Linked DNA regions of Homo sapiens: region 1 is linked to region 2. Evidence: fine-mapped expression QTL. A gene starts in region 2. The other region holds a variant in brackets. All regions are shown on one strand. Distances are between the middles of the regions. Region 1 overlaps RAB21 (RAB21, member RAS oncogene family). Region 2 holds the start of RAB21 (RAB21, member RAS oncogene family).

Region 1 (16,447 bases), 32 kb after region 2:
TAATCCTCATAATCCTATGAGGGTTTTATAGAGGAAGGTGAGTCCTGGAGATAATAACTTGCCCAGTGTCAGGTAGCTTTCAGAGATGGGATTTGAAATGAAGTCGTTCTGACTCTTAGGTTACTAATCCTTAAGATGTATAGCCTCATGCTGTTTTCTCGCTTTCTTTCTACATACCTGATAATATTAAAAGCAATATGGGAGAAGCCAGGGTAGGATCATTTCAGTGGAAGACAAGGGTAGTATCTGGGGAAATGAAAGAATGGAATGGTCAGTTTGGGCAAATTCTGCTTTTAGCCTTAAGAATTTTTTTTTTCTTGAGACGGAGTCTCGCTCTGTCACCCAGGCTGGAATGCAGTGGTGTGATCTCAGCTCACTGCAACCTCCGCCTCCTGGGTTCAAGCGATTCTCCTCCCTCAGCCTCCCGAGCAGCTGGGACTACAGGCACGCACCACCACGCCCAGCTAATTTTTGTATTTTTAGTAGAGACAGGGTTTCACCATATTGGCCAGGCTGTTCTCAAACTCCTGACCTCATGACCCACCCGCCTCAGCCTCCCAAAGGGCTAGGATTACAGGCGTGAGCCACTGCACCCGGCCAAGAATTTTTTTTAACTTGAGTTTACATTTCTTATCTCTTGCCACCATTACATTGGTAGCTTTATAGTACCAGATCAGGGGCAAGTCTTGGGGGAAAAAAGCGAGATGATTTCCCCTGCGTTTTGGTCTAGATGCTAGATGTTAGGCTAGGCAGGAATATTTCAGACTGGAACACTGAAGTAGTAGGCTACTTGGAGATTTGGAACCAAAGCTACAGCTAATCAGTACTGAGTTTTGTGTAACTTTGTGTGGTATATGGACTTACTAGGAGTGGAAGTGGCCACAGTAGATGAATGACTGAAGATTTAATATTTTGGGATTCTGATCATCTTTCTGAAGATAGAAATTACTAACACATACATAAAGTCAAGGAAACCCCAAGAGCTTGTTACTTGACCAAGGTCACAAAGTAACATTTAAAAAATCATCTAAGTTAAACAAGCTCATGAATAGTTTAAAGTGTGTTTGTTTTTTTTTAATGTTCAATGAAGTACCTTTTATGTTGCCCCTCTCTAAAAGTTGAAGGCATAACATTAAATTGAACCTCAGGGAAGATACTTTCACTGGAGCATCAGAGAGAGTGGTTGCCAGATAGTGAATTGGTTTCTTTAAAAATGTTTATATAGTGTATATTTTTAATGTTCATATTATAAGACGTTTTAGGAATATTGGATCTGGTAGCCTATTGCCTCAGGTAGGGTCAAATACCCCATTTAATATTATATAATGTTTATTAATTATTAGTGTGAAGTATAGAAAGCTCTCACTTTCTTCTGTTGACAAGTGTGACATGGAATTTTACTTGGAATTCAGAGTTGGGAGAATTCTGAGAACTTAGGGACTGATTTGAGTAATAATAAAACTCCAGTCTCCCGTTTAAAAAAAAAAAAAAGAATTCTGAGAGCTTATTTACTACTTTTCCCAAACTTATTAGGATAACTTAAAGGATTAAAAAAAAAGTATTTTGGGCCTCGTTACAGATACACTAAATCAAAATCTCTATGGATGGGACTAAGAATTAATTCCTTCTTTTCACCCCATCTTTCTTCCTTCTACAAGTATTTTTGAGTGGCTTCTTTGTACCAGGCACTGTGTGCTGTTAATTCTGATTTAGTGTACATACACGCTGGTGTTGGAGAACAACTTATTTTTTCTGACACAGTGCAATAAACGAATTTTTCTTCACATTTAGCTGAAATCATACTCCCTGTATCCTTCACTTAACTGATTTTTAAAGTGAGTTTTTCATTATATGTACAGAAAAGTGTACAAATCTTCAATAACATAATTTTCACAAAATGAAAATTGCACGGTGTAAGCAGTACCTAAGGACCCTGAGTTGTGTTGCTTTTTCATCCCAACACTCACAGTTGTTTTCCCCTCACCATTCCCCACCCCCGTCACTATCCTTTTTACTGCATGAATTAGTTTTGTTTTGAATTTTATATAAATGGAATCATATAATATTAACTCTTTTTGGGTCTGGCTTTTTTGACTTTACATTATGTGCCTACGATTCCTTTATGTTGTATATAGTTGTTCATTTTATTCTGATTGCTGTCTAATACTTTAATCTATGAATACTCCACAGTTTATCTGTTTTGCTATTGATGGACATTTGCATTGTTTTTCCCACTTCTTGATTTTTATTCTCTGTTGTAGTAGTTCAGTGTTTATTCTCTCTTCTGTTTTATTAGTAACTTTGAAATAATACTACTACTTCTCAGGGTTATGATGAAGATTATATAATGATTTGAAAAATACTTGGCATAGAGGTAAACATTTGACAAGAATTCATTCTTTTCTCTTTACATAAGATAACCTTTCAAGCATTTGAAGACTACTTAAACGGCTCACTTTAAGTCTTAAATTCTCTAGATCAGCTGTTTTTTTATGTGGCCTACCTTCCAGACATTCTGATCATCCTGATCATTTTCTCTCCTAGGTTTATTTTATTGTGTCAGTATGTCTCCCACACTTGGAAATAAACCATAGAATCCAAATGTTGTTGAGCTAGTATGTTCTTATAGACCCTGTCTCTCTCCTCACACTGGCCTTCTATCAGGATTGCCTGAGATTGCTTAAATTTTTTAGCAGACATGTCAACTAGTCTCTTTTACATAGGTTATAGTTATCTAAAATCTCAAGTCCTTTTTTATAAGTATTGCTATTCAGCCAGATGTTTCCCAGCTTGTTCTCATGTAACTATTTAAAGCTAAGTAGAAATTTCAGTTTGTCATGTTTTTGAATCTTTATGTTTGATATACAGTCTACTAGCATTTTCATGTGTAAATTGAATACTTAACCTCCTAGATCCTTATCTAAGTCCCTGATATCCATGTGCTAACCAGTAATAGAGAACCACATGTTTCAATAGCAGAGACTTTTTCCTCTAGGTTGTCATTAATCCATTGATAGGCACCCTTGGCTGTGGTTGATAGTATTCTGCATCTAGTCTATCCTTAATATTTGTATGTTTCTTGAACAAATATTTATTATTAATCGTAGTCACCATTTACTGAGTGCCAGGCACTGTTTTAAGTACACATTTTTTACTTCATTTAAGCCTCCTGACAATGCTGAGGGGAAGACCATTTCATTTTACAGATGAAAAAATGTGCTTAGAGACCTTGAAACTTCCCAAAGTCACATAGTTTGTTAGAAGTAGACCTGGGATTTTAACTCAGATCTGCCTGCCACTTCAAGCCCATATCCTTAATAAACACTTCATTGCTTACTATGTGCCAGGCTTTGGGAATAGTGTAGTGAATAAGTAAACAAAATAGATACGGTTCTTGTCCTCCCAGAGTCTCTTGTGTGGAAAAAGAGAGGAAAACAAGCTACTATTATATGTTATAATAAATGCTATGGAAGGGAAATGCAGAATGGAGTGCTATGAGAGCACAAAAGCAAACAAACTAGATTTGGGGTGCAAGGGGGAGATAAGGGAACATTTCCTAGACCAAGTGTTGGATAAACTAAGTTAGCTAGATGAAGCCAGTAGGATGATGGTAGAGTGCGTTACCTGCAAGGCGTGGTGGCTCACCCCTGTAATCCCAGCACTTTGGGAGGCTGAAGCAGGCGGATCATTTGAGGTCAGGAGTAAGTTTGTATTACCTGTCATGGACTTTAATTGTCTTACAACAATATTGACTTTCCATTTGATCATTCACTGTGATGAATGTCATTAATATTAATAACTGTTCCTTATTGAGCATATAGTATATGCTAGGCCTTTTACATATATCTTATTTTCACATCAACCCTGCAAGGTTTGTTAGCGACACATGCGTACAGTGAGACTAACAGAGGTTAACTAATTTGTCCAAAATATTACAGTTATGGCCAGGCGTGGTGACTCTGGCCTTTAATCCGAGCATTTAGGGAGACCAAGGTGGGCAGACTGCTTGAGTCCAGGAGTTTGAGACCAGCCTAGCAACATGGCAAAACCCCATCTCTACAAAAAAATACAAAAATTAGCCAGATGCGGTGGTGTGTGCCTGTAGTCCCACTCGGGGCTGAGGCAGGAGAATCGCTTGAGCCCGGGAGGTGGAGGCTGCAGAGAGCCGTGTTCACGCCACTGCATTCCAACCTGAGTGACAGAGCAAGACCCTGTCTCAAAAAAAGGTAAAACAAAAAAAAAATTACAGTTATGGAGTAAGCAAGGACTTAAAAACAAGTTTTATCACATTTAAAAGCTTTCTGAAAGCTTCTTTCCACTGTGCCCCACAACCATTCAGTCTAAGCATAATATGATTCTAGTTCTATATCATTAGGCCATTTGCCCTTAGCAGTGGACATGCCCCTTCTATGTTCTTAATTCAAATATGTATTTTTAAGGAAGATCTGCTTAACTTAGAGGGTAGCTTTTTCCCTCCCTTTCCAATAGTGTCAGCCTATTTGTTTATGTTTTTAATTCTTTATAGTACTATACTTTTAAGTAGGTGCTTGCTTTGGTTATTGTCCTTGTTTTCAGGTGTTTTAAGCCTATCAGAAAGTTCCGTATGTAGCTGCACAGTAGTATTGAAGCAGATATGAGTCTCAAAGCCTTACTCCTTAGCTGTCTTGCTTTTGAAAAAATATAGAAACTAAAAGGGTTTTTGAGCTTTGGAAAGAGGTCAGTCACTAGCCAGTCAGGTTTCTGCAATGTATTCTGTGCTGTCAATCCATTGTGAACACTGATTATTCAAAGAAATAATAGTTATTTAGATTTAAAATATTTTAAGTTTAAAATAATAGGTTATTAAGATAGCTATTTATTAATGGCCTGATTTATTAAAATTAGTCATTTAAAATATTATCAAATAATAAAGCAGTGTCTGAATTATTTCTCCTAAATGTTCATTTGAGGCAGTAAGGTGATTGCCTGCTTTTCCTCTCTTCACTCTTTTTATAGGTATTGATGATATTGATGGAATTTGGAACATGAGCCATTAAATACCTAGAAAAAAATTCCATAGGGTTTTAGGTAATTGAAGCAAAATTAATATTGCTACTTTTAGTAGGAGACTATCTTATTTTGCCTTTGTGAGGCAGAATCTTTTTCCTGTTTGTTGGAGCCACTGGCCACCAGGTGGTGCTTTTTGCATTCTTTACAGAATAACACGACGGTTTTTCCTCTGGTTACTGTCAGACATTGTCATATTTAGCTAATTAAAATTTCCAATGACAAATATAATGTAGGAAGTTAGAACTAATATGAAACTTCTTGCTGTGGTAGATAGCTGTTCAAAGAAGGAAGAGTTTGTTACTGAATTTGTTGGTATCCACTGAGCTTTAGTGTTGTCTGCTTCCCTCTCTCTGATTCTTAGGCTATGGTGGCAGATAGTTTCTTGCAGTTGCCAGCAACTAGGTTCTCAGATTATTCGAGGTCCTCAGTATATAGAACCTTTGGACTTGTCCACCTCAGTGCTAAACATTTTATCTTTTATTGGGTGCTTATTTCAATGCCTTATCTGAAATTTATCTGAAATTGTCTCCTAGAATCTATATGGTTCCAAGAAAAAAAGTAACCTTATTTATAAGATTTCTCTTTTCTCCCTAAAAGCCATAGTAGAAGAATAAAAATGTTTGTTTGAAGTGTCCTTCCATAGGGTATTTTTCCTTATCGTTATCTACTGTTTTTATTACCTTTAGCACTCTGGGTGTCCAGCCAACTCATCTTAAGTTCAAGGAATCAGTATTTTGCAGTTTCTTCATTTTTGTTCTGATGGCTTTTTTTAAAAGTATAATCCCAGCTTGGTTCTGTTGTTTAAGGAGAGCTAAACTTATAATTTAAATCTGCATGATATACATATATTAAGTTTTAATAACTCACTAAAATTGTTTTTTAAACAAAGAATACAGTTTTTCCGGCCGGGCGCGGTGGCTCAAGCCTGTAATCCTAGCACTTTGGGAGGCCGAGGCAGGCGGATCACGAGGTCAGGAGTTCGAGACCATCCTGGCTAACACAGTGAAACCCCATCTCTACTAAAAATACAAAAAATTAGCCAGGCGTGGTGGCAGGCACCTGTAGTCCCAGCTACTCAGGAGGCTGAGGCAGGAGAATGGCGTGAACCCGGGAGGCGGAGCTTGCAGTGAGCCGAGATGGCGCCACTGCACTCCAGCCTGGGTGACAGAGCGAGACTCCGTCAAAAAAAAAAAAAAAGAGAATACAGTTTTTCCCCTTATGATTGTGGAGTACTTAAAAATCTGTACACTTTAATTTTTACTTTAACTGGTTTATATCATCCAGGAAACCAAAATACTTGTAGGATCCAAGAGGCTAGATTAATATATTTTAGTAAACACTAAGATAGCCATACTTATTGACCGGCTCTAAGTTAATGGGAACTGTAGAAAATTTTGCTCTTACTTTTGATCATTTACACTTGCCTAAGAATCATAGGTTTATCTCTAGGTCTCTGGTATCCCCCAAAATCAAAAAAGAGTGCCTGTCTCTTTGGAAAAGTTGTTTTCTTTGTCAGAGGCTGCAGATTCAGGAAAGGTATGAATTGAGTCATTTGAAGGAGGATGAGGCATGATCAACCCTCAGATCACAAGGCTTAACTTTATAATTTCAAGACATTAGAAGTCTGGTGGGGATTTGCATTATTTTTGCTGGTAATTAAAATGGCAATTTTATATTTAGAATTGGCTTAATTTTGTTATGAAAATAAATCAGTATAAAGATAAATATTTACTTTTTTCAAAATAGGTAATAAAATAGACTTGGAAAAGGAGAGACATGTTTCCATTCAAGAAGCAGAGTCGTAAGTACTGTGACCCTCCCATTCCCCATCACTCCCTAGTAGAAATCTTCCTCTTTATACGTTTTGCTTTACCATTTAGGTATTACTCAAATCTCTTAGCATGGATTGAGGTGTTGGATTCAGTGAAGCATGTTTACATGGTAATTTCTGGGCTTGTGGCAATAAAGCCCTTACTTCCCTTTTTGACTTCAGTGAAAAATACGAGTGATATAAAACAAAACTATCATGATCAAATAGGCAGTAAGCCAGAAAAACTTTTGAAGTATTTGAGTCCCAAATTAATCTATAAAAATTTCGAGGCTTGTTATATTTGTGTTATTTAAAATTTGATTTAATGTATAGAGAATTTAAATAGCTATATAAACTTAATTTCACTAAACTTGAGTAAATTAATATGTCACTAAAACTGTTACTATAAAAAAGCAGTTAAGACAAAATCATGAATAATATTTTACATCAATCACCGATGTTACTTTTTTTTAAGGTATGCAGAATCTGTGGGAGCAAAACATTATCATACTTCAGCCAAACAGAACAAAGGAATTGAGGAACTCTTTCTTGACCTTTGTAAAAGTAGGTATATTCAGATTTAGTTTGTTTAGAAATGGTTTTTGGTTTTTATTTTTTAAAAAATAGTATGTATTTTACACCAGTGTTACTTTTCAAAGAATTGGTTCTTTTTAAACTATTGACTATTGGTAGTATTTCTGAAGTGCTGTAACTATTTTTTTTAATGCTTAAATACCTACTTTAACCCTGTTTCAAGCAGTAATTAATGGTTATGAAATC[A/G]TAAGTATGGTGTGGGCTAAATATATATTATAATATATGCATAAGTATTAAAAGTGGAAGGGGAATTTACATATTAAAACAGATTTAAGACCTGTAACAACCTCTTGCAATGAATGGACCTTATTTGGACACTGATTTGTCAAACTAGTGAAAAAGAGTGTTTGTGAAACAAGATATTTGATGATATTAAGATACTATTAATTTTTTAGGTGTGATTATGGTATTGTGGTTATGCTTTATAAAAGGAGTTCTTATCTTTTAAAGACACATTAAAATAATTTAGGAATAAAGTTATGGGTCTGAGATTTGACTCAAAATAATGGTAGGGATGCTTAGGGTTATTCATGAAATTGGGTGATGGATTTTCATTATGCTGTATTTTCTACTTTATGTTTGAAATTTTCCATATTAAAAAGTTTATAGTTTTAAAGAAAAAGGAAAATAAATTTATATATATTCTGAAAATCATTTCTTATATTACCAATAAAATGCATATCTGAGTTTATGGACTTTAGACTCTTTTGAGAATTTGATGAAATCATGGTTTTTCTCTCTAGAAAAGAATATTGATATGTGTGTGTGTGTGTACACACACACACACATTTTGGAATAAATTAGTTTTATAAAACCCTCAAGTCATTCATAATTCTTCTAAAATATTGATTATGTAAGTGATGTCCCCTGATCAGCAGCATCAATATCACTTGAAAATATGTCAGAAATGCAAATTCTTGGGCTCTCCAAGCCTGCCGAATCAGAATTTCTAGGGATGGTGCCCAGAATCTGTGTTTTAACAAACGCTTCATATGATTCCAATGCACACTAAAATATAAGAGCCAATGCTGTACATAACAACTTGGGGATCTTATTAAATGCATATTTTGATTTAATAGGTGTGGGATAGATTGAGGTCCTCATTTCTACAAGCACCCAAGTGGTGGTGATGCTAGTCATCAGGATATCCTCCTTCCTTACCTCCCTCCCTCCCTCCCTTCCTTCCTTCTGATAATGCTTTTAAATAACAATGCACTAAGTCAGTGGCTTACAAATGTTATAAATATCACATCTTCAAAACAATTTTTGCATGCTCCACATGTTTATTTAGAAATTATATAACATGTACAAGTACTAATATGTACATTTTAAAACATACCTAAAAAATAGAAATTTTGGAAAGTTAAAAATAAGTAGATATAGAATTTATAATGTTTTCTTATTTCCTCTTGTTGGATTGTCCCACATACCTCAAATTGTAAACCATTAATCAAGAGCAGTCTCTAATTTAAGAGCCCTTTTGTATTTTAAGGACACCCTCTTTTCTTCCTTCATCTTCTCAAATACGTGTTTTGTAAATACTTTCTCTCAGTCTGTGTTGTGTATTCCCATTTTTCTTACCTGTGTCTCTTAAAGTGCAGTTTTAAGTTTCAGTGAGGTCCAGTTTATCTATTTTTCTTTTATGATTCATGTTTTATGTCTTACATGAGAACTCTTTGTGTAAGCCAAAGTCACAAAAATTTTCTCCTATGAAGATTTTTCTCCTGTGTTTTCTTCTGGAAATTTTGTTTCATGTCTTACATTTAAGTGTATAATTCATTTTTCGTTGTTTTTTGCATAAGATGTTAAGGTGTGGGTTAAGGTTGATTTTTTTTTTTTACAATAGATGTCCAGTTCTATTAATACTACTGTTTTTTGAAAATATTCTTTCTTCATTGAATAACCTTGGCAACCATGTCAAAAATCAAGAGACCATATCTACGGGGTCTATTTCTGGACTGTGTTTTTTTGGTTCCACTGATCTATTTCTCCTATCATTGTCTCACTGTTTTGATTAGTGTAGCTTTATACTAGTTCTTGCAATCAGGTGGTGTGAGTCTTTCTGCTGTGTTCTTCGAAGTTCCCTCATCTTAAACTCCATTATTCTTCAAATATCGCTGTGGTCAGGGACAGTGGCTCACACCTATAAGCCCAGTGCTTTATGAGGCCAAGGCCATAGGATCACTTGAGCCCAGGAGTTTGAGACCAGCCTGGGCAACATAGTGAGACCCCCATCTCTAGCAAAAAAAAAAAACTCAGCCAGGCATGGTGTTGCATACCTGTAATTCCAGCTACTCAGGGACTGAGGCAGGAGGATCAACTGAGCCCAGGAGTTAGGGGCTGCAGTGAGTAAGTGATGATCACACCACTGCACATCCAGCCTGGGTATCAAAGCGAGACCCTGTCTCTCAAAACTAAAATAAAAAGAATCATTTACTTAAAAGTATTACATTTCTAGTTGAAGAATAAATCCTGCCCCCTAAATATTACTTGGAATAATTTGAACTTCTTTGACATATTTCTAAGTGTGTTTGGAAAATCTTAAGGATTATACTTGTACGCAGGCAATTGTTCAGAGCAAAAAAATTTTTTTCTTTATTGATATCACTGTGGCCATTATACCACTGGATAAATAAGCTTACTACTTGATACTAGTTTTTGACACTAGTTTTTTAAAACATGCAGGTGAAGCTGTTTTAGTGAGCTGACCCAATGTTCATTATATTTAGTTTCTTTGTTGGTCGAAAGTCAGAAATAGCTATCATAGTGTTATACTGAAATTTTAGAAAGAGAAAACACAAATATTGTGGTCCTAATAATGTTTGCTTTCTCTCTGTCTTAGGGATGATAGAAACAGCACAAGTGGATGAGAGAGCAAAAGGCAATGGCTCTAGTCAGCCGGGAACTGCAAGGCGAGGTGTACAGATTATTGATGATGAACCTCAAGCCCAGACCAGTGGTGGAGGGTGCTGTTCTTCTGGATAACTGTTCACGCCTAAGAAATTAAAAGACAGAACAAAACTGTGGATCATTGCCCTCAACATGAAGACTGCCATATTCCAAGTCACATTATTTTACCAATGGAATTATAGAATTAACAGTATTTTAAATTACGTTTATAACACTGCAGAGACCTTAAGTGCTAAACTTAGTGGAGTTTGTGACCAGAGAATTGGCATTTTCTACAAATGTTTTTTTTTGTTTTTTTTTTGTTTTTTTTTGTTTTTTTTTGAGACGGAGTCTCGCTCTGTCACCCAGGCTGGAGTGCACTGGCTTGATCTCGGCTCACTGCAAGCTCCACCTCCCAGGTTCACGCCATTCTCCTGCCTCAGCCTCCCGAGTAGCTGGGACTATAGGCGCCCACCACGACGCCCGGCTAATTTTTTGTATTTTTAGTAGAGACGGGGTTTCACCAGGTTAGCCAGGATGGTCTCGATCTCCTGACCTTGTGATCCGCCCGCCTCGGCCTCCCAAAGTGCTGGGATTACAGGCGTGAGCCACCGTGCCCGGCCTACAAATGTTAACAAAGCAATTACCAATGGCCTTTTTACATATTTTTTCTTTAATGAGGAATAATATGCATGTAGAAAAGACCTACTTAAAGTCTTCATTTATATTCTTTCAAATCAAATCTTTATTTAATAACTTATATATGTTGTTGGAATGGTTACATTTTTGCAGCCCTTTGTATTTTGTGGTAGTTGAAATTGTATCACTTCTAAACAGCAAACTGTTTTTGTTTTTAATTAGCAGATATCTGAAGTACTATTTTTGCAGGGTTTGCACAGGCCCGTAACTGTCTACTACTTTGATATAATCTGTATACATCCTGTATGCTGAGCTGGTAAAATACATTGTAAATTACATATTAAATATTTTATCTGCTTTTACAAGCGCAAGGTGCAAAAATATATACAATAGTCTCATTGATGACTGTAAAGTGAATTAACATTTGGTGATTATGCCTAGCTTTTTTGACTAATATAAAGATCATAGCTCCCCTTCACTTCTGTCTTAACTTGAACATGGCGTGTTTAAATTTTCATACATACTTTACTTGAATTATTGCTGTTGTCACATATTTTTGCCTCTGTGAGTTCATCTGATGATTGAGCAGTAGCATTTGCCTTTTGGGTTTTTTGTTTGTTATTATAGAAGAGATGACTTCTGCTGATTTTGCTTTAGAATGGTTACCTTAGAAGAATTTGGGTGGCTCATGTTGAATTTCACTTCTGCAATAGCTTTCATTTTCTCATAGGCTTTATAAGAGATGGGTTCAGTGGTATGAGCAGAGGAAGAGATCCCAGATAGTAGCCAGTTAACCAAGACTCATTCATATAGCACGTAGTTTATGTTCCTGAGGCAGCACTTTTAGATCCTTTGTGAGCAAGTTCTATTTGTTCATTGCTTGCCAGAGATGAACACAGAATGTTCTGTTTCATTTTACAAGAACTATCCTGAGTTTCTGTGGATGGAAACATTACATGTAATGCAGATATAGTGAACACTGGAAAGATTTATTAAAGAATTATATTTGTGTATACTTTATAAATTAGTCCCTCATTAGATTTTTTTTTCTTAAGCATAAGACTGAACTTAAATGTGTTAATTTTAGTAGAATCAGGCACTGCTCGCAGAAGGAACACAGATTGTAGAGATTAACATAAATTGTTCTTGTTCTAATATATATATTTTTTCATTTCTGTCGTGCTTGGAAAACTAGTAAATATTATGTCTAAGATAAAATGGAATGGCCCCTGGATTTACTTCTTATAAGAAGCAGTAGTATGTAATAAAGCTATTAGCATGAGCAATTAAGAGGCTATAAAGAGATTATAGTTACAAAAGAAATACTGCCATATTTTTAAGTTAATAACTTAAACCTTCTCAAATGGGTTAAAAGTTGAATGAATTGACACCCTGATGTTATGATGTTGGAATTTTAACTTAAACTGGGAGGCATTCTGTGAGCCTTCACTTTACCTTCTTTAATTATTGTCCTTGCTAAACTCAACACAGACTTTTCTGTTATGTGTTTTTGAGGAAGTTGGGGTGGGAAGAGTCAGGGAGATAAGCTAAAATTGTCTTCTTTTATGGGGTAATTGTACTCTGTAGTCTCTTGGTTTCCTGTGAAGTTAGTATTTATGTGGGGGTGGGGGAAGGTAGCAAGAATCATGGGTATCACGGTACTTTGTTTTTGACCTCCTGGCTCTTTCAGACAGAGTGAAGAAAGCTTTTCCATTCTTACTGTTGTAGAAGTAGATAGGAAATAAGCTTTTCTCATTACAGTGAAATATGTTTTAAAAACTAGAGTAGCTGGGCACAGAGGCATGCATTTGTAGGGCCAGCTACTTGGGAGAGTGAGGCAGGAGGATCACTTGAGGCCAGGATTTCAAATCCAGCCTAGGTAACACTGAGACCTCCATCTCGTAAAAGGCACAAAAACTAGTTAGAGATGAAATTGAGCTTTATTTTAAAAAAACGTTCTAAAGCCTGATAATTGGAGAGCTATACTTCAGCTTTTCATCCTACTTTAATGAAACAGCTAGATAGGAACCTCTGCTCCAGAATTGCCAGATAATTATTGGTGGGTCATAACTATTCTTCATATTTTTTTTTTCTTTTTTCTCCTTTGGTTTCTGTGTTATCTTTCTTAACCTCACGTATTTCTTTATCCTTTTTAGTGGGGGCCTGTAATTGAGGCTAATTCAATAGCAACAATAGACAACATGATATGGCTGCTGTCACTTTGAAACCCAAAAGGTCTTTGGGTAGGAATAGAGTAATGAAAGAGGACCAGTCAACTTCAGTATATATACAAAGGAAAGACAAAGAGATGATAAACCAAGGCTGAGGAAATTTTTCTGATGCTTTCTTCATTTCTCTAATATACCTTTTGCATTCTTTTTCTGATAATTGTGCTATTAGGCAGAAGACACAAGTTACCACGTTGTGTATTAAAAGCAGTAGGTAGGTTGTGCCAGTATTTTTTCAGCCAGTAAGCATATACAGTTAACTTATATAATTAAAAATTGGTTTAAGATAGTGATTAAAAATACCTGAATATTATGTTAAAAGTATACAATCATTGTTTCTGTAATGATGATGGGTATTCTGCTTCTTGTTTTTCATTGTAATTACAGGGGAAGATTGTTTTTGAAAATGTATATTGCCATGCTTTTGGGGTAAGCAGTAATGTGAAAAGAAAAAAGCATTATGTTATTGTATGAAATATAAGTGTTCAGATTTGTTTTGTCTGGGGTGTTGCCTAAGAATACCCTAAAGCTATGGCTGTTACTGCATTGAAATCTTTTTTTTTTTTAATAGTAGCCATATGTTATTAGTGGAGTACTTTATATTTGACATTAAAGTGAAGAAGAAGAGTAGTACTTCACTTTTAGGTTTTTAGTAGTGAAAGATAAAATTGGAAAAATAGGGAAAGAGCATAGGGAGGAATAGAATGGAAGTCAAGTAAATAAAAAACTACAACCTGACAGTTTTTTAAATCACTTTGAAAAGTACATTACTTTTATCAAAGAGTTTCTAATTAAGGCAAACTATGCATTATGCCAAATATTAAGAACATTTTAAAAATGGATTGTGATACTGTTTATTTCTTTAATTATATAATTTGCAATTTTCTGTATTATAAGTGCTACCAGGATTCTAGATAGTTGATCTTACATATTCAGATAGTATAGTTTACTCTTATAATTACCCGTTACGTTATCTCTAAAAGTAGTTTGATCTGTGCCTTTAACTTTTAGAATTCATCTTTTGACTTGTTTGCCACTGTAGAGTTTTCAGTTTTCTCTGTAGATTCAGTGTGACAAAGAGGGAATACATAATTTGTGACCATTTAAGATGCTGATATTTTCTGGAAAAGGATATAGATAGTAGTAGTGACCCGCAGGAGCCTCACAATAATGTCTAAAGATATAAACTGAGTAGATCCCTAAGTACTCTTCTCTAAATTATAAAATGCATTACCTAGGCTTTAATAGTTAAAAGCTGGAATTTATTGAACCGCATCTACTTGATTTCATAATATGCATTGATTTTAGTATGTTGCTGTTCTGTTATCTGTAATCAACTATAACAGAGTAATATATTTGGTGTTCTGGACCAAAATTCGTGCTACACATATGTCTGATGGCCTTTACCTTTTCAAGAAAACAGTTGCAATTTTGAGCAAAATTTTCCTAGTTGTAATATTTTAATAGTGTTATGTATTGGAAAAAATTTAGAAATACTCCTAAGAGTTTTCAATTTCAAGCAGAAATGCTTCTCTTCTAAATAAATACCACTTAATTGATAGACCTTTAGCAGTTCTTGTGCTATCTAGGATTTATACATTTTTGCTTTTCTGGAAAACTGCTTTGGCGCATTAACCTTTCTACTGCAACATTTTCTCTTCAGTAGATATATGAGTAAACATGATGAGTTAATGTTACACAGCATACCCAGTTAGGTCTCTTATTCTTAAAGCATCTTTCTTTAGAAGTCTGCACATATTTTCAAATGCATCATATTAAAGGCACAAGTCAAGAGGAGGTGGAGTTGCCTACTTCAGTGGCCTTTATTCCCACTATACCAGTTCTCAGTCTTGATTTTGATACTTTCTGGCAACTGTATCATCTCTTCACTATCACGTATTTTAAGAAAAAGCTAAGGTGATTTCTTTACATTTGAACATGTGTAGATCAATGAGAGAATGGTGAGGGATAGCAAGGATAAAGTATAATGTTGAAAAGTAGAAAGAAGTGGTATCTGCTAAACTCTAGCTTTAGTAGCAAGCTATTTTAAGGAAATCATTGTATGTGGTACTTCCTAGAAATATGAAAGTTCCTCATTTTGTATTTAATTATGTAAGAAAATGTTCTAGGAAAAGAATAAAAAACATATATTGTCAAAGTGCCCTTTGGTAGTGCTCCCAAATGGTAGTAACTATTGGTCTCTAGTATATACTCCTCAAATATCTTTTTGCTATGTATTAATATATCTATATGTTTACATATAGAAATACATAGTGTTGTGGGTTTTAAATTTTCACATAAATTGTGTCTTACCCATGTGTTTTGCCATTTGCCTTTTCTCTTGCCAACGTGTCTAGGAGCTCTTTGGTAAATACAGACTTTTTCATTTTATTTCCTCCCACATTTCTATGGATGTGTCTTGCCTTTTTCTTTTTTTTTTCTTTCTTTTTTTCTTTTTTAAAATAGCCTCTGACTCCATGAAACCTGAAAAGGAATCTGGTCTGTTAGGTGGATTTCATTAGTATCCAAATTTATTTATTTTTTTATTTCATTTTTTTGAGACAGTCTCGCTGTGTCACCCAGGCTGGAGTGTGGTGGCTCAGTGATAGTTCACTGCATCCTTGAACTCATGGACTCAAGCAATCCTCTTGCCTCAGCCTTCTGAGTAGCTGGGACTACATGTGTAAGCCACCATGCCTGGCTAATTTTTGTATTTTTCATTTTTAGTAGAGATGGGAAGTCTTGCTGTGTTGCCCAGGCTGGTCTTGAACTCCTGGCCTCAACCATTCCTCCCACTTCAGCCTCCCAAAGTACTGAGATTACAGATGTGAGCCACTAGGCCCAGTCAGTATCATAGAATTTAAATGCAAGCCAATGCTTAGACAGAATCAGGGTCTGCTTTAAGCATGTGAATCAGGAAACTAGAAGGCCTCTTGTAATGTATTTGAAGTTCATTACTTTTGGCTGACGGTTGACTGCTTAGTGTATAAAATCTAGGAGTTAACTTTAGCAGATTCTTTTATCAGAATACGTTTTTTATTGGAGGGAAGAAGGAAAAAGAGGAAAGGTATAACTGATGGGGAAAAGTACAAGATAAACTAAAACAAGTCTTTATACAACTCTGACAGCAACTCCCATAACAGGACATGATGCTACCAAAAATTCAAACTTGTATTTGATCTGTGCCTTTAATATAGAGTAAAAACAAAAGTTCCTTTTTAGATCTCCCTTCCCTCAT
Region 2 (16,447 bases):
AAATATATTCATTAACAGATATATTAATAAATACATCTTTTAAATGTTGAATTATATTTATAACATATAAATATATATTTATATTTCTATATAATTTAATATATGTATGTATATTATAATTTACATATAATTTAATATATGTATGTATATATTAAATTATATATAATATATGTATGTATATATTAAATTATATATAATATATATGTATGTATATATTAAATTATATATAATATATATGTATGTATATATTAAATTATATATATAATATATGTATGTATATATTAAATTATATATATAATATATGTATGTATATATTAAATTATATATATTTTGTCACCCAGGCTGGAGTTCAGTGGCACACTCTCAGCTCACTGCAACCTCTGTTTCCTGGGTTTAAGCAATTCTCCTGCCTCAGCCTCCCGAGTATCTGGGGCTACAGGCCTGTGCCACTATGCCTGGCTAATTTTTGTATTTTTAGTGGAGACAGGGTTTGACCATGTTGGCTAAGCTGGTCTTGAACTCCAGAACTCAGGTGATCTGCCCACCTCAGCCTCCCAAAGTGCTGGGATTACAGGCGTGAGCCACCACACCTGACTAAATATATATATTTTTAACTGAATGAAAATGAAAATATACCATGTTGAAATTTATGGATGCACCTAAAACAGTGCTTAGAAATATATAGCATTAAGTACTTATAATAGGAAAGAATAAAGATCTCAAGTCAGTCATCTAATTTTCCATGTTAAGAAACTGGAGAAAGAAGAGCAAATTAAACCCAAAGCAAGCAGGAAGTAAGAAATAATAAACAGCAGAAATCCATGAAATTGAGAATTGAAAAATAGTGGAGAAAAATCAATAAAACCAAAGTGGACTCTTAGAAAAATAATTAAAATTGATAAATCTCTAACTTGACTGACCAAGAAACTGAGAATACTTAATAACCAATATGAAGAATAAAAGAGGGAAGATCTCTACAGACCCACAGACACTAAAGGATAATAAGGGTATGCTATGAACAACTCTAATTAGGACCAGAAGTAGACTGAGGAAAGTTCATAATAGTGGTAAAGGAGAATAAGAGAGGAAGCTGAAGCCAGAGGAATATAGGGACTGATAGCCCTGAGAATGAAGTTAGTAACTATGAATTTGTATTGATGCACAAAATTCAGGTGGCTTAGAAAATTGTTCCAGAAGTTCACTTTAAGGTTGGTGTTTTGTGATGATGCAGTGTAAATATAAGGATATATGAAAATGAAATGTGCTGGTAAGAGTTTAGATACTCAATGCGGAGTCTGAACCTGGTTGTGAGCAGCGTGGGAGTATGAGGCAGCTAGAAGTCAGGGAGAGGGAGAGAGACCAAGAGAGGACTGGTGGATGGACTGGGGAGGGAGGCTGCGCTTGGAAGTTCAAGGAAATGGAAGTTTGCACAAAAGCCAAAAAAAAAAAAATAGTGAAAATGAAGTCATAAGAATAATACCTTTAGCCATTTATTTTGCACCTACTGTGTTTCAGTCATTATTCTATACATGGGATATAATGGTAAGCAAAACAGGCAGATCTCGACTAGTTCAGGAACTTACATCTTTAGTACTGATAAATAAGTAATTATAATACTCAATAATACATGCTAGGAAGTACTTAAAAAGGGGTATAGGAGAATGGTAAGATTTTGTTTTGTTTTAGAGATAAGGTCTTGCTCTGTCACCCAGGCTGGAATGCAATGTCATGATCATAGCTCACTGTGGCCTCAAACTCCTAAGCTCAAGTGATCCTTCCATCTAAGCCTTGAAGGTAGTTGGGACTACAGATGCGCACCACCATGCCTAGCTGATTTTATTTTTTTAAAAATTTTTGGTAGAGATGATGGGGGGGTCTCACTATGTTGCCCAGGCTGGTCTTAAACTCCTGGCCTCAAGTGATCCTCTTGCCTTGGCCTCCCAAAGTGCTGGGATTACAGTGCAAGCTACTGCGCCTGGCCTAACAACAGCTGGATTTTAATTAAAATCTTTTCCAAGTAGGAATGAGTAACCAATAGGAAAAAACACTCAAATAAGTGGTACTGAATGGTATAATTCTCAGTATACACTAGTATTAATACTTACAAACTTCCCATTCGACTACAGCTATCCCAAAGCTCTCCAATCTCAACATCACAAATCTGTAAGAATCCTCAGCCAAATTATTTCACCAGGGCAAAGCAATTTCTTTATTAAAGAGGCTTTTAAAATTCTCTACACTGACTGATTTCTCAAGAAGATGCGAAAGAATAGTCATTCAGGCCCATCTCAAATAGACAAATATCTCTAGAATTTCCAGTTTCATATGACTAGTGGCATCTAGTTTTTAAAAATCAACATACTGCAGACTGACTCATTGAGACTGTTACCATTCTGAACTGAAACTTTTTAGTAATTAAAAAATTGCTGTTCACTTTGGGAGGCCGAGGTGGGCGGATCACCTGAGGTTGGGGGTTCGAGACCAGCCTGACTAACATGGAGAAACCCCGTCTCTACTAAAAATACAAAGTTAGCCGGGCTTGGTGGTACATGCCTGTAATCCCAGCTACTTGGGAGGCTGAGGCAGGAGAATCGCTTGAACTTGGGAGGCGGAGTTTGCGGTGAGCTAAGATTGTACCATTGCACTCCAGCCCAGGAAACAAGAGTGAAAATCCATCTCAAAAAAAAAAAATTGCTGTTATACATCCTATTACCAATCATCTCAAACATACACTTCCATCTGATATAATTAGGTAAGCTTCATGCCATGGTTATTTCAAAATACAATTTCTAAAGGCAAAATAAAATACAATTGGCCCACCATTTGTGGGTTCTGCACCTGTGGATTCAACCAACTGAGGATAGAAAATATTCAAGAAAGAAAATGTCTGTACTCCACATGTACAGACTTTTTTCCTTGTCATTATTCCCTAAACGATGTAGTATAACAACTATTTACATAGCATTTACAATGTATTAGGTATTATAAGTAATCTACAGATGATTTAAAGTATACAGAAAGTTGGGAGGCTGAGGTGGGTGGATCACCTGAAGTCAGGAGTTTGAGACCAGCCTGGCCAATGTGGTGAAACCCCATCTCTACTAAAAACACAAAAATTAGCCAGGCGTGGTGGTGAGCACCTGTAATCCCAGCTACTCGGGAGGCTGAGGCAGAAGAATCACTTGAATCCAGGAGGTGGAGGTTACAGTGAGGCAAGATCACGCCACTGCACTCCAGCCTGGGCAACCAGAGTGAAACTCGGATGTGCATAGGGTATATGCAAATACTACACCATTTTATATAACAGACTTGAGCATTCATGGATTTTGGTATCCATGAGGAACCCTGGAACAAATCCCCCATGAATACTGAGGAACGACTTTACATATTTATGACTAAACAACGTTTTCGGTTTCTTTACTTGCCTTCCCTTTTTAACTCTTGAGAGTGTATATTTTTAGTAGAAACTGGTGGAAAGATCTGAGAAGCTGAACATTGGACTTAAATTCCTTCTTTGACAAACATATGTAAAGTTTCTTGGGACACTTTTAGTTAACAACTTAGGGAAAAATGGCTTGTGAACTGTATCTTCTCCCCTTTTCCACCCAAGAGTCATAGGATTTTGGAATATTCTTGTTTTCTACAACTCAGAAAAAAATCTCCCCATGGTTTCCTTCTTTTTAATGTTGAAGGACACCTAAATTTTGAATTACGCTGGCAGCTTTAAATGTATGCTGGCCAACCTGGTAAATTTTATTGGGCTGCTAGTGCCTCTCTGTGGCCAGTGACTACAATTACAGCTCAGTTTATTGCCAGTGAGAAGCATTTGAAAGATTGCTTCAGATGTACAAATAGTGGCTTTGGAAGCTGCAGAGGCCAGGCATGGTGGCATTCACCTGTAATCCCAGCTACTCAGGAGGCCGAAGCAGGAGGATCACTTGAGCCCAGGAGTTCTAGACCGGCCTGGACAACATAGTGAGACCTCCATCTCTATTAAGAAAAAAAAAAAAAAGCTGCAAAGAACCTAGGGGAATGAGATTAGAACTGACCCAAAGCTGTGGGGACCTGGGCTACACCGGGGAGGGTAGATAGCTAAGCAGGGACTGGATTTTGATTGAAAGGAGAAAGGGGTGTGCATGCTGGGTAGATATCAAACATGATCACTACACATATTGTAATTGTTTCTGTGTTGCCTCCCACACTAGAATATGAGCTCCATGATGGCAGAGACATCTTGCCAGGCACTCAACAACAAAGGTTGCTGAATGATTGAGCAATAAAGGAATAAATGGGATTCATTCATAGAAATTACACATTAGTTGATAGCTGCTATTCTATTACCCTTATTAGAGGCTTAAGATGGAAAATGCTTTGAGTAAATTTTTTTTTTTTTTTTTTTTTGAGATGGAGTCTTGCTCTGTTGCCCAAGCTGGAGTGCAGTAGTGCGAACTCGGCTCACTGCAACCTCTACCTCCCGGTTCAAACGATTCTCCTGCCTCAGCCTTCCGAGTAGCTGGGATTACAGGCACCCACCACCACGCCTGGCTTATTTTTTGTATTTTTAGTAGAGATGGGGCTTCACCATGTTGGCCAGGCTGGTCTCAAACTTCTGACCTCGTGTCATCCACTTGCCTGGGCCTCCCACAGTGCTGGGATTACAGACATGAGCCACCACACCCGGCTGCTTTGAGTAAATTTTATTTAACAATGCTCCATATGCCCAGGAGTATTTCTCAAACCTCATTTTTAATACACAGTATTTTATAGGCTTAGCTCCATTCATTCCTTTGTTTCAGTTAACACATATTAATTGAGCACTACATTCCAGAAACTGGAGATACAAAAATGTGACAGACACAGTTCTAGCGCATAGCAGACAAAATCCCTGCTTTGCTGGCAAACCCCCAATTTCAGCTCCCTCCACTGTGGCAGCTGCAGGAATCGTGTTTTGTTTTGTTTTTCTTCAGGTTCGTTTATCTCTCCTGTTGTACTCCTGTTTTTCTACACTTTAGCTCCTAATACTCAACTTATTCTTTTTTGAAAGGATGCATATTATAGTATATTAACCCAAATTCCTTGAAATTTCTTGTACTTGTAGAAAAGTGATATAGAAACAGTGCATCTGTAAGTACTAGAATTTCTCCAAGTAGTTATAAAAGTGTTTTTGAATTCTCCTTTTGTCTCTGAGGAAAAATCTAATTAGAATAAGAATGTATTTTCTGTAACAGTTGCTAAAAGGAACCAATGTTCAATGGAGGATTAAAAGTGCCTTGGGGATACAAGATAATTCTACGTGGAGAAATGAAGCTGAGAAAATACTTAAATGACTATGTGAAAGACATGCATAGATAATACTGGCAAAGTTGGAAATAGTTTCTTCGAGCTTTTGAGTTTCTTATTCTTTTACTACTTGTTCAGCCCTACTCTCTGTTTGCCTCCATAACTTAATATAACCAGTGGATTTATAATTATGACGGGCTGTAAAAATATACACACTTCATTAGGCTAAAGTAGGGTTTCTTGACCTTGGCAACATTGACATTTTGGGCTGGGGCACTTGTTGTGGGGCACTGTCTTGTGCATTGTCAAATGTTTAAATGCATCTCTAGCCTCTTCCCACTAAATGCCAGTAGACAAAATATCACCAGATATTACCAAATGTTCCCTGAGGAGCATAATTACCCCTGGTTAAGAACTAGTAGACTAAATCAACCATCTTTAGTTAAGTTCCTGAGCAAGTTTATTTCAACTCCTACCACTCAGTTGAAACCGTTCAAATCAAAATTTCAAATTGCTCTCTTGTAGCTAAACCAGTAGATACTTAAGACACATAAAGACCAGTCCATACTTAACTTCACCTCTCCAAAACATTTCATGATTCCCTTTTTCTTAGAATGTTCTCTTCTCTCCTTGACATTAACTTCCCCAGTTTTCCTCTAATTTCTTTGTGTATCTCTTTGCAGCTCCTGTTCCTCTACCCATCTCTTAAAAGTCATTGTTCTCAGGTGCTCTGTCCTAGGCCCTCTGACCCTCTCACTTTATACACTCTCCCTGGGTGATCTCCTCTACCCCTGTGGAAGCTATTTCTCTCTGTGCATTGATGATGTCTTTGTCCTTTTCTCAAGCCCAGATCTCTCTCCTAAGCTGCTGGTTCATAAAACCAATTGCCTACTAGATATTTATACTTGAGAATACCTCAGGCACTTCAAAATCAAAATGTACAAAACCAAGAAAGTACAATCAAAAAATGTTTTCTTCCTCCTGTGTTTTTTATTCCAGTGAAAGTCATCACCATTTACCAGTTGACTAAACCAAAACTGCAGGATTCATTTTTTATTCCTCCCTGTCTCTAACTTTCTCACTTTTCGTAACCATTGTTCCCCAAGTCTTGTTAACTCTACCTTCCAAGTCAGTGCTTTACAAACTTTACCATGAATAAGAATCACAAGGAGGGATTGTGAAAGAAAAGTTTCTTCTTGGATTCAGTTGCAGAAATTCTGATTTAATGGGGGTGGGGGATGGCAGAATTGTATTTCTAACAAGCTTCTAACTGCTGCTGTTGCCCTGAAGACTGCATTTTATGTCACACTGTCCTAAAAGACTTCTCATTGTTCCTATAGTAAAGCCCAAGCATGACTTTCAAGGTTGTATAGAATCTTATTTACCTCTTTACATTCATCTCTCACCATATATTTTTTCAATGGTAAATGAATGAGTGAAGGATGAATGAACCAGAGATATACAAAGGCCATTGACAATCCTCCATTCCAAATGAAAAATAAGAATTATCTGACTCCTTGACTCTAGCTATTTCATCAAAATTCAACAATTGAGGTCTCTACATGGTTATATGATCATACTGGGATTCATGATATTGGTCTTTTTTTTGTTTTTCCTTGCAGATGGGGTCTTGTTTTATCATCCAGGCTGGAGTACAGTGGCATGAACATAGCTCACTGTAGTTTTGAACTTCTAGGCTCAAGTGATCCTCCCACATAGCTGGAACTATAGGTGCATGCCACTATGCCTACTTATTTTCTAAAATGTATTGCAGGGCCAGGCACAGCGGCTCACTCCTGTAATTCCAGCACTTTGGGAGGCTGAGGCAGGCGGATCACTTGAGCCCAGGAGTTCAAGACCAGTCTGGGCAACACAGTGAAACCCCATCTCTACAAATACAAACAAATTAGCCAGGCATGTTGGTGTGTACCTGTAGTACTAGCTACTCAGGAGGATGAGGGGGGAGGATCACTTGAGCACAGGAGGTCGAGGCTGCAGTGAGCCAAGATTGTGCCACTGCACTCCAGCCTGGGCAACAGAGTGAGACTCTGTCTCAAAACAAAAAATATTGTAGAGACAGGATCTTGCTATGTTGCCCAGGATGGTCTTGAACTCCTGGCTTCAAGCGATCCTCCTGCCTCAGCCTCCCAAAGTGCTAAGATTACAAGTATGAGCTACCATGCCCGGCCCAGGACATTGGTCTTAATTCACAAACGTAGTGCAAGAACAGGGGGAGAAAGGAAGAGTCATTCCAAAAACTAGGTCTCATATACATTATAAGTAGTCCATAAACTCAACTTTATAACCACCACAAAATGGGTGAGGTTGTTCTTTCCCGCCTACAGAATTAAAGCTGCATTTTACCTCTGTGCAACAATTTTTCCCCATTTGATATTGTGCTGCATGTTCATTGTTAACTTGATTTCACCTGTATAATTATTCCTGTTTTTTACTGGGGGAAGAGGAGCTACATGAATTTGCACCCTATCATGCCTCAGTCCTCACCATTCAGGAATATGTTTTGAGTTATGCACTCACTGAAGTGTCCCCATATTTTTGCAGCTCTTCTCTACGGAGGAACTGGAGCTCTAGTGTTTTTTTTTTTTTGTGGCAGTCCGTGTTAAGTTTATACAGACCAATCATAGTTGACTCTAAGACTGACCTAAATTCTTAAGGGCGTAGAATCTATCCCAGAATTGGCCTGAATCTCTTTCAATGCTTTGACTGTTATGGGCTACTTGTTTTCTCACAACATACTTAAGTACGTTTCTTATGGCTGCTGTAACAAATGATCACAAACTTGGTAGCTTAATACAACACACATTTATTCTCTTTTAGTTCTGGAGGTCAGGAATCAAAATTAGTTTCACTAGGCTAAAATCAGCATATCTGCAGGGCTGAACCCCCTCCAGAGGCTCTAGGGGCTTCTTGTCTTTTCCAGCTCTGGTGGCTGTAAGCATTCCTTGGCTTATGGCTACATTGCTCCATAATCTGCCTCTATGGTCACACTGCCTTCTCCTCTTCTGGGTGTGAAGCATCTCTTTCTGCCTCTCTCTTATAAGGATACTTGTGATTGCAGTTAGGGCCCACCCAGATAATCTCCCCATCTCAAGATCCTTAACTTAAATCAAAAAGACCTGTTTCCCAAATAAGGTAACATCTACAGGCTCCGGAATCTAGGAGCTGATATCTTTAGGGGCCGTTATCAGCCTATTACAATTTACATCTATATTTACCCACTCTGTGCTCAAAAGTATGCCAACCTACTTATTGTAACCCATGAAAACTTGCACTACCTTCTTAAATGTCAACGTAAGCTAAATGTAAAAACTTATTTTAACTTCGAAAATTATTTTGGCTGAGTGTGGTGGCTTATACCTGTAATCCCAGCACTTTGGGAAGCTGAGGCTGGAGGATTGCTTGAGCCCAGGAGTTCAAGACCAGCCTGGGCAACACAGCAAGACACGCAAGATATCGTCTCTACAAAAAAAATTAAAAAATTAACCAGGTGTGGTGGCACACACCTGCAGTCCCAGCTACTCGGGAGGCTGAGGTGGGAGGATTGCTGGAGCCCAGGAGGTTGAGGTTGCAGTGAGCTGTGATTGTGGCACTGTACTCCAGCCTGGGCAGCAGAGTGAGATCCTGTCTCACAAAAAAATTATTTTGTTTTACAATAAAAAAATTTTTAATTGCTTTGATTTAGTGATAAATGCAAAGTAATGCATTTAGTTTCTAAGATGACCAAGCTGTTAAATAATCAAATGCACACAATTTGAAAAGTTGTTGAAAGGATTGGCTGTATCAAAAAGAAGAAAGGAGAAGGCTTAAAGGAAGAACACACAGCCTTCTTCATATGTTTATAGGGAATAGGGATTCGATATATAATGTATAAATATAAACAGAAATAATTAATTGCAGGTGAAGAGAGGCAGATTTCAATCCAATATGAGGAAGTGCTCAGAAAGAACAATGGAAGGTGCTCTCTCAAAATGAAGTTCTTTTCTAGTTCTGGAAGTGTCTATAAATGTGCAAAGACCCTAAGGGGAGGAATGTGGAGGAGAGAGTTGGAAAATATATCTTTAGATACAATCATGAGGATATTTTATAAAACATAGAGTCTCTTTAATGGTTGGTTCTAAACAAATCTAAAATATTATCCTTCTCCAATTCACTTTTCAAATGATAGCCAGAGTGGTCAAATCTGATTATGTCAGTCATCTTACGAAAATCCTTCATTTGCTTAAAGACCCTTTCAGTATTGATCCCCAACTTCCTCATGGTCTCTTCTGGAGTTTTTTTTTCCTCCCTAAATTCTAGTCACATTTACAGTTGCTCAACTTTAGATGCTCCTTCCTATCTAAAGCCATTGAACATGCTGTTATCTCTGTTTGCAGAGCTCTCCTGTCCTTCCTGACTAGGTTACTCTTACCCAAAGATAACTTTCTCCAGGGAAAGCTTCTCTAGCATGCTAAATCAGTTGGGTTCTCATATATGCTTGCAAGATACTCTGAACTGTTTCATCAAGATGAAAGCATTTATTGTACAATTGAGTATGTCTGTCTTCCCTGATAAAATGTAAGCTCTGTGAGGACAGAGACATTTTATCTTGTTGATCACAGTGCCTGGCATATGGTGGGCACATTTAAATATTTGTTGAATGAATTAACCGACTCTCTTTTTTTTTTTTTTTTTTTTTGAGACGGAGTCTTCCTCTGTCGCCAGGCTAGAGTGCAGTGGCGCGATCTCGGCTCACTGCCACCTCTGCCTCCCGGGTTCAAGCGCTTCCCCTGCCTCAGTCTCCCGAGTAGCTGGGATTATAGGCTTGTGCCACCATGCCCAGCTAATTTTTTGTATTTTAGTAGAGATGGGGTTTCACCATGTTGGCCAGGATGGTCTCGATCTCCTGACCTTGTGATCCGCCCGCCTCGGCCTCCCAAAGTGCTGGGATTACAGGCATGAGCCACCACGCCCGGCCTCTTTTTTTTTTTTTAACCTGGTTTGAAGTGTGAAAGAAGTTTGATTTTTAAAAAAATGTTTACCTGACACCAGGTTTCCAGTAAATTTTCAGAAATATTAGTATGATTTCTTGGAGGAGTATGGTTTCTTGGAGGCAGGCCGGGCGTGGTGGCTCACACCTATAATCCCAGCACTTTGGGAGGCCGAGGCAGGTGGATCACTTGAGGTCAGAGTTCAAGACCAGCCTGGCCAACATGGTGAAACCCTGTCTCCACTAAAAATACAAAAAGTAGCGGGGCGCGGTGGTGGGCGCCTATGGTCCCAGCTTCTCGGGAGGCTGAGGCAGGAGAATCACTTGAACCAGGAGGCAGAGACTGCAGTGAGCTGAGATCACGCCACTGCACTCCAGTCTGGGCGACAGAGCGATACTCCATCTCAAAACTAACAATACAAACAAACAAAAAAGAATGGGGATGCAGATGAGAAAAAACAAGCAATCATCGAACAAGCCACCTCAAGGTGGAGTACCATGGAACGTCAGAGGCTTCATGAAAGTCAGAAAAACTGAAGAGCACTTGGGGTTAGGAATTCAAAGGTGGGCAGCTCTTATACAGACCTTGCCCTCAACAAACCTATAGTCTAATGAGAGTCGATAAACACTTAGCAAAGTATTAATAATATCCATGGAGTGTGTAAAGCCCTAGTAAAGGAGGTATACTGGTGGTAAGAAATACCTAATTTTGTGAGGTGGGGGAATGGAAGGATGGGGGAAGGATTGGGTGGTCAGGGACGCGGTTTAAGCTGAGACTTGAAAGATGATGGAGTAGTTGACCAGGCGGTCAGAGGAACTTGGAAGCGCTATGATTCGGGATCCCACAGAGAGAGATTCAAGGGCACCTTGGCAGATATGGTTTACAGTGACCTCTGGTGTGACAGATCATTAGCATTGTGAACATGCAAAAACGATGAAGTTCTGCCCTTCATTTCACCAGAGCTGGGCTCGCCTCAAATTCCTGGTTCCTTATTCCCGCTGGCTCCCACCAACTGAAAAGCAGAGGTGGCTCGCAAGCGGCGGGGCTCTGCCCTAGATTGCCAGTAGGCGCTCGACTCACATCCAGCTCCACCCCGGGAGATGCCCCAGAAGCCCCGCCCACGTCCAGGCACGTTCTTCTGGGGCTAGTCGCAGGGGCCGCCCCGGCACCGGCGCTCACGTGACCCGAGGTGTGACGTAGGAGGAAGGAGACGCCATTAGAGGGAGGCAGAGAGGGATCGTTCTTCGCTTTTCCTCCGGTGCCTGACGTGGTGGGCTGGGGCCCTTCATTCTCGGACTTTCCCTCAGCCCTTCCAGGCCTCGCCCGAGGAGGGCGTGGGGACAGCGCCCGGGTCGGCGGGGCCGGGGCGGTGGGGGCTGAGCCGGCCGTGGCTGTGAAGGCGCTGCCGCGGCTGTCGGGAGGGCGGCGCGACACTCGGGCTCGGGCGGCCGGGAAGCGACGGGATGGCTGCGGCCGGCGGCGGCGGCGGCGGGGCGGCGGCGGCGGGCCGAGCCTACTCGTTCAAGGTGGTGCTGCTGGGGGAAGGCTGCGTGGGGAAGACGTCGCTGGTGCTGCGCTACTGCGAGAACAAGTTTAACGACAAGCACATCACCACTCTGCAGGTGCGGACCTCGGGGAGCGGGAGGGGGCGCCTCAGGGCCCCTACCCCTCCGGGGCTGGGGAAACTTTGCCGCCCTGGTCCCCTGGATGTAGGCTGGCAAATCTCAGGCCTGTCATCTCCGCCTTCGGTTTACCTTTCCGAATTCGCCCTGGGGAATCACCAGGTCGGGGCAGCCTGTAGACGCGAGGACAGGCTGTTGGGAGGGAAGTGGAAGGGCCCTGAAAAGTCCCCAGTGTTCCCCGTGGTGGCTGCGCACGTTGTGGTCTCCGTCCGTGGGCTGTTTTTTCCCATTTACTGCAGTTCCTGGGTCCCAGGTGTCAGTGTTGCAGTCTCCAAATGTTAGCTCCTTTTCTTTCTTTCAGAATTAGGAACTTAGCTGCGTATTTGATTTTGCGAATTAGGTGATTTGTAACTTCAGCGCTTACTGATGACTAAGTGTTTATGCAAGTTCCATTTTGTCCTGAGTAACAGGAATGGCAAAAGAGCCATCTCTGGAGGTTTTTTGAAATGACCGCTTGCCTAGGCGTGTTACGCAGTTTCATTGCAGCCTGCGTGGGTCTGACTTGCGGGTCACTCATATTCTGCGAGGTCGATTGACCCACGCTGAAACATCAAGTGAATACTGGCCAACAATTGGTCCCCAGACTAAAAGCCGCTGCTGTTACTCAGTTTCTTTACCTGTAAAATAAAAGGTCGGCTTTCTTCCACAGGTACATTGGAAAGGTGTTAAAATGTTATCATTGATTGAGAGTGAAGCCAGGCCTTTGAGGGAGTTGTACTCACCCCACCTCTCCCAGAGAAATCAGTTTTGATGTTATTAGGAGAAATTTATCCTACTAATTTGACTTACCAATTTGGTCAAAGGCAGTAAAGTCTAGTGGACTTTTGAGCCTGATTGTCCAGGTTCATGTCTCACCTCCATCCATTTAACTAGCTGTGTCATACTGGGTAAGTTACTTAACCTGTCTGTGCCTGTTTCTTCTGTTAAAATGGCCATAATAGTAGTATCTAGCTCATAGGGTTGTCAGGATAAATATACAGAAAAAGCACTGATGACCTGGTCCAGTGTAAGTTGTCTGCCTTTAATTACCGCCCCAACTTGCACAATAGGTCTTAATTAGTAAATGTGTAGTATGTGAGAACATCGACACTACTTAATAGAATGCGTAATCTCCTAATTGTTGTGACATTGGATGTTTGATGCTATTATTAAACTACTGAGTCTAGAATTTACAAGACGCTCTGGCTCTGATTCCATGTTCTATTTTTACTCCTCTGATTTTACTCGTATGTAAAGCATATCTGAAAAAGTGAGTGCCAGGAAACTGCATTTTTAAAAAATCCTTGTACCAGAACACTGACAAAATTTTAATAATGAATTGTTATTGTTCAGTGTCATTAGTGAGAGCCTGGTGTTTTAGATCAAGAAAATTCACTGGACAAATACCTAGGATCATTTGGAAGTTTAGAGATTTACTTAGGTAAAGTAGTAACAATAGCTAACATTTAGTGAGTTCTTACTGTGCTGATTATTTTGCTTGCTTTCTGTCTGCTTGCTTTAATTCTTATAACACCCTATGAAGTGGATAGTTTAGTGGATAGCCCTACAGCTGAGGAAAAACGTTTAGTTGAGTAATTTTGCTGGCAGTAATATTACCACAAGTCAATGGGGCAGGAGTGTCCAAGCTCAAATTTGAACCCCTGTCTGACTTCAGATTTTGAGCAATTAAATCACATTACCTCGGTATATTGATAAATAACCCATCTAGTGTTTTCCTTTATGCAAAGATCTAAGATAAAAGAAAACTATTGTAATTGAGGTCTCCACGTTTTTTTTCAAAAGATAACTTGAGTCTTGCCCTGTCGCCCAGGCTGAAGTGCAGCAATTTCCACTCACTGCAACCTCCACCTCCTGGGTCAAGTGATTCTCCTGCGTCAACCTCTCAAGTAGCTGGGATTACAGGCACACGCCACCACATCTGGCTAATTTTTTTGTATTTTTAGTAGAAACGGGGTTTCACCATGTTGTCCAGACAGGTCTCGAACTCCTGACCTCAGGTGATTTGCCCACCTTGGCCTCCCAAAGTGCTGGGATTACAGGGGTGAGCCACTGCACCTGGCCATACCCTTTCAACTTAAAAATTACACTTCCATTTTAAATTTCTAAAACATTCTTGAAACTGAAAGCAGAGTAAAGGTTTTTAAATATATGAAAAGCCACTGTACTCCACAGAGGGGAGGATGAAGTTATAGTAGATATCCAGTATTAATATCTGAATTATATTATAGAATTTAGGATTTTGTTGTACACCAATGTATGTAAACAGCAATGTGTCTAATCTCTTTCAGAGATACCAGTTAACCTCATCTTTCTTAACAATTTTTCAGAGGAATTTGATTTATGTGACTTGTAAGACACAACTTTGTATTCTTTTAATTTCCAAATGGAGAGGAAATCATGTCAGAAGATATGAGAGGAAGAGTTCACCTTTTTTCTCGTCAACAGAGTACCTGTCTATGTAAACTACTTTGTATTTTATAAAGTACATTCTCATACATTTCAAAGAATTGCAGGATTGACAGGAATTTAAGACAGTTATGTATGGATCACTATTTTGGTCTTCTAATGTTTAGTCAAGTGATTGTCCCCCTTTTTTTTTTTAACATCTTGGAGGTGAAATGAACTGGTATTATGGAAAGTGGAAAGCTCACTTTGTCCTAAGGTGTCCCATTTCATTTTTAAATTTTTTTTTTTTTCTTTTTGAGATGGAGTCTCACTCTATCACCCAGGCTGGAGTGGAGGGGTGCGATCTCGGCTCATTGCAACCTCTGCCTCCTGGATTCAAGTGGTTCTCCTGCCTCAGCCTCCCGAGTAGCTGGGACTACAGGCATGTGCCACCATGCCTGGCTAATTTTTGTATGTTTAGTAGCGATGGGATTTTGCCGTGTTGGCCAGGCTGGTCTCGAACTCCTGACCTCAGGTGATCCACCTGCCTCGGCCTCCCAAAGTGCTGGGATTACAGGTGTGAGCCACCACTTCCGGTCCTATTTTATTTTTAGTAGTTTTCAGTCCTAATTCTCCCCACTGAGTCTTGGTGTCTCATATGACATTCCTTCTGATAGTTGAAGATAGCTATCTTGTCTTCTCTTGGGTAAACAACTCTGGCTCCCTTAACTGGATCTCCAGTGACAGTGACATCGTTTTAAATCCTTTCACTTTTTTTTTTTTTGGAGGCAGAGTCTTGCTCTAGTGGTGATATCATAGCTGCCTGCAGCCTCCAACTCCTGGGTTCAAGTAATCCTTCCACCTCAGCCTCCAAGTAGCTGGGACCACAGGCGTGCGCCACCATGCTCGGCTAATTTTTTTTTTTTGGTAGAGTTGAGGTTTTGCTATGTTGCCCAGGCTGTTGTAGAACTCTGAGCTCAAGCAATCCTTCTGCTTTGGCCTCTTGAAATGCTGAAATTACAGGTATGAGCCACTGTGCCTGGCCCTTTCACTATTTTGAATCTCTTCTAGGCACTATGTAATCATTGTCCTTTCCTTAAAGTGTGATTCCTTGAGCTGTAGAAATAATTCCAGGTGTGGTGGTTTGAACTGAACAGAGAAGTGCAGGCTGTCACCTCTCCTGTTGAGAATCCTTTTCCAACACTGAAGTAGAAGAGATTCTCTGAGCTTTTAGGGAAGCTCTCAGAATTTCTCTTTGATAAATATTGAATTTGCTGTCAACTGAAACATCTTAGTCTTAATTGCTTCAAAAAAAGGCATTATTTGTATCTCTCAGATTCTCTTTTCTTTGGTATTGTAGTTAAGCTTTTTCTTTTGTTTCTAATATACTTGACCCATTAAGGTTGGCTTTGGTAGATTTGCTCCAATAGTTAAGCCTGTTAATGTCCTTTTTAATTTGGATTCTGTAATTCACAAAACACTGACTGGGCTCCTTTGGGCCAGGTACTGGGTTGGGTCCTGGACATGGCAAAGAATAAGGTGTGGAATCTACTGTCTGGATTAGCTACTTTTTAACTTTGTCATCTGAAAGTTAGGTAAGAATGCCTTTAATGTTCTCAACAGGTCATTATTAAAGACTATGAAAGAAAGCAGAGAGAGAGGGCCAAGTGCAAAGCTCTGCAGCAAGTTTTACTGTAGTCCAGTGATACATGACCAGAAGTGCAATTTTCTGTAGACATATAGAATCTTAGGGGCTTTTTTGGGCCATGCATGGGCCACAGGCCATCCCCTCCTCCTTCCCTTGAGTAAGAAACAGTTGTTAATGGAGTGCTATACATATTAATGATAATGGAAGACTGACTGCTATGGGCTACTACCTAGTGGACACAAATCCCTTAATAAAATGTAAACATTTACTCCAGCATTACAGTTCTCCTTTTTGCCCAAGCTACATCTGTCTTGCCCACAAGGTTATCATGAGATGCTTTGTCAAATTCTTGCAGAAGACAAGATAGGCTGTGTTTCTGCAGTACTCAAATCTATTAGGAGGCCATATAATGTGGTGAAAAGAGAAAGGACTTTGAAGTTACACTGGGGTTTGAATTCTTACTC

The links.
Region 1: its variant is fine-mapped to the expression of RAB21 in T cells (TOPMed, PIP above 0.99).

The regions. Positions count from the first base shown.
Region 1 is chr12:71,775,236-71,791,682 of GRCh38, forward strand. RAB21 (RAB21, member RAS oncogene family) reads left to right here. Exons shown (of 7, transcript NM_014999.4): 5 at 6,796-6,850; 6 at 7,335-7,423; 7 at 10,296-16,447. The coding sequence ends at 10,438. Among named protein-coding and RNA genes, the nearest start is that of RAB21, 29 kb to the left of the region's middle. The variant A/G (reference allele first, on the strand shown) is at 7,640.
Region 2 is chr12:71,743,399-71,759,845 of GRCh38, forward strand. RAB21 (RAB21, member RAS oncogene family) reads left to right here and starts at 11,465. Exons shown (of 7, transcript NM_014999.4): 1 at 11,465-11,890. The coding sequence starts at 11,732. RefSeq lists silencers at 4,467-4,676, 11,507-11,786 and enhancers at 11,237-11,526, 12,167-12,356.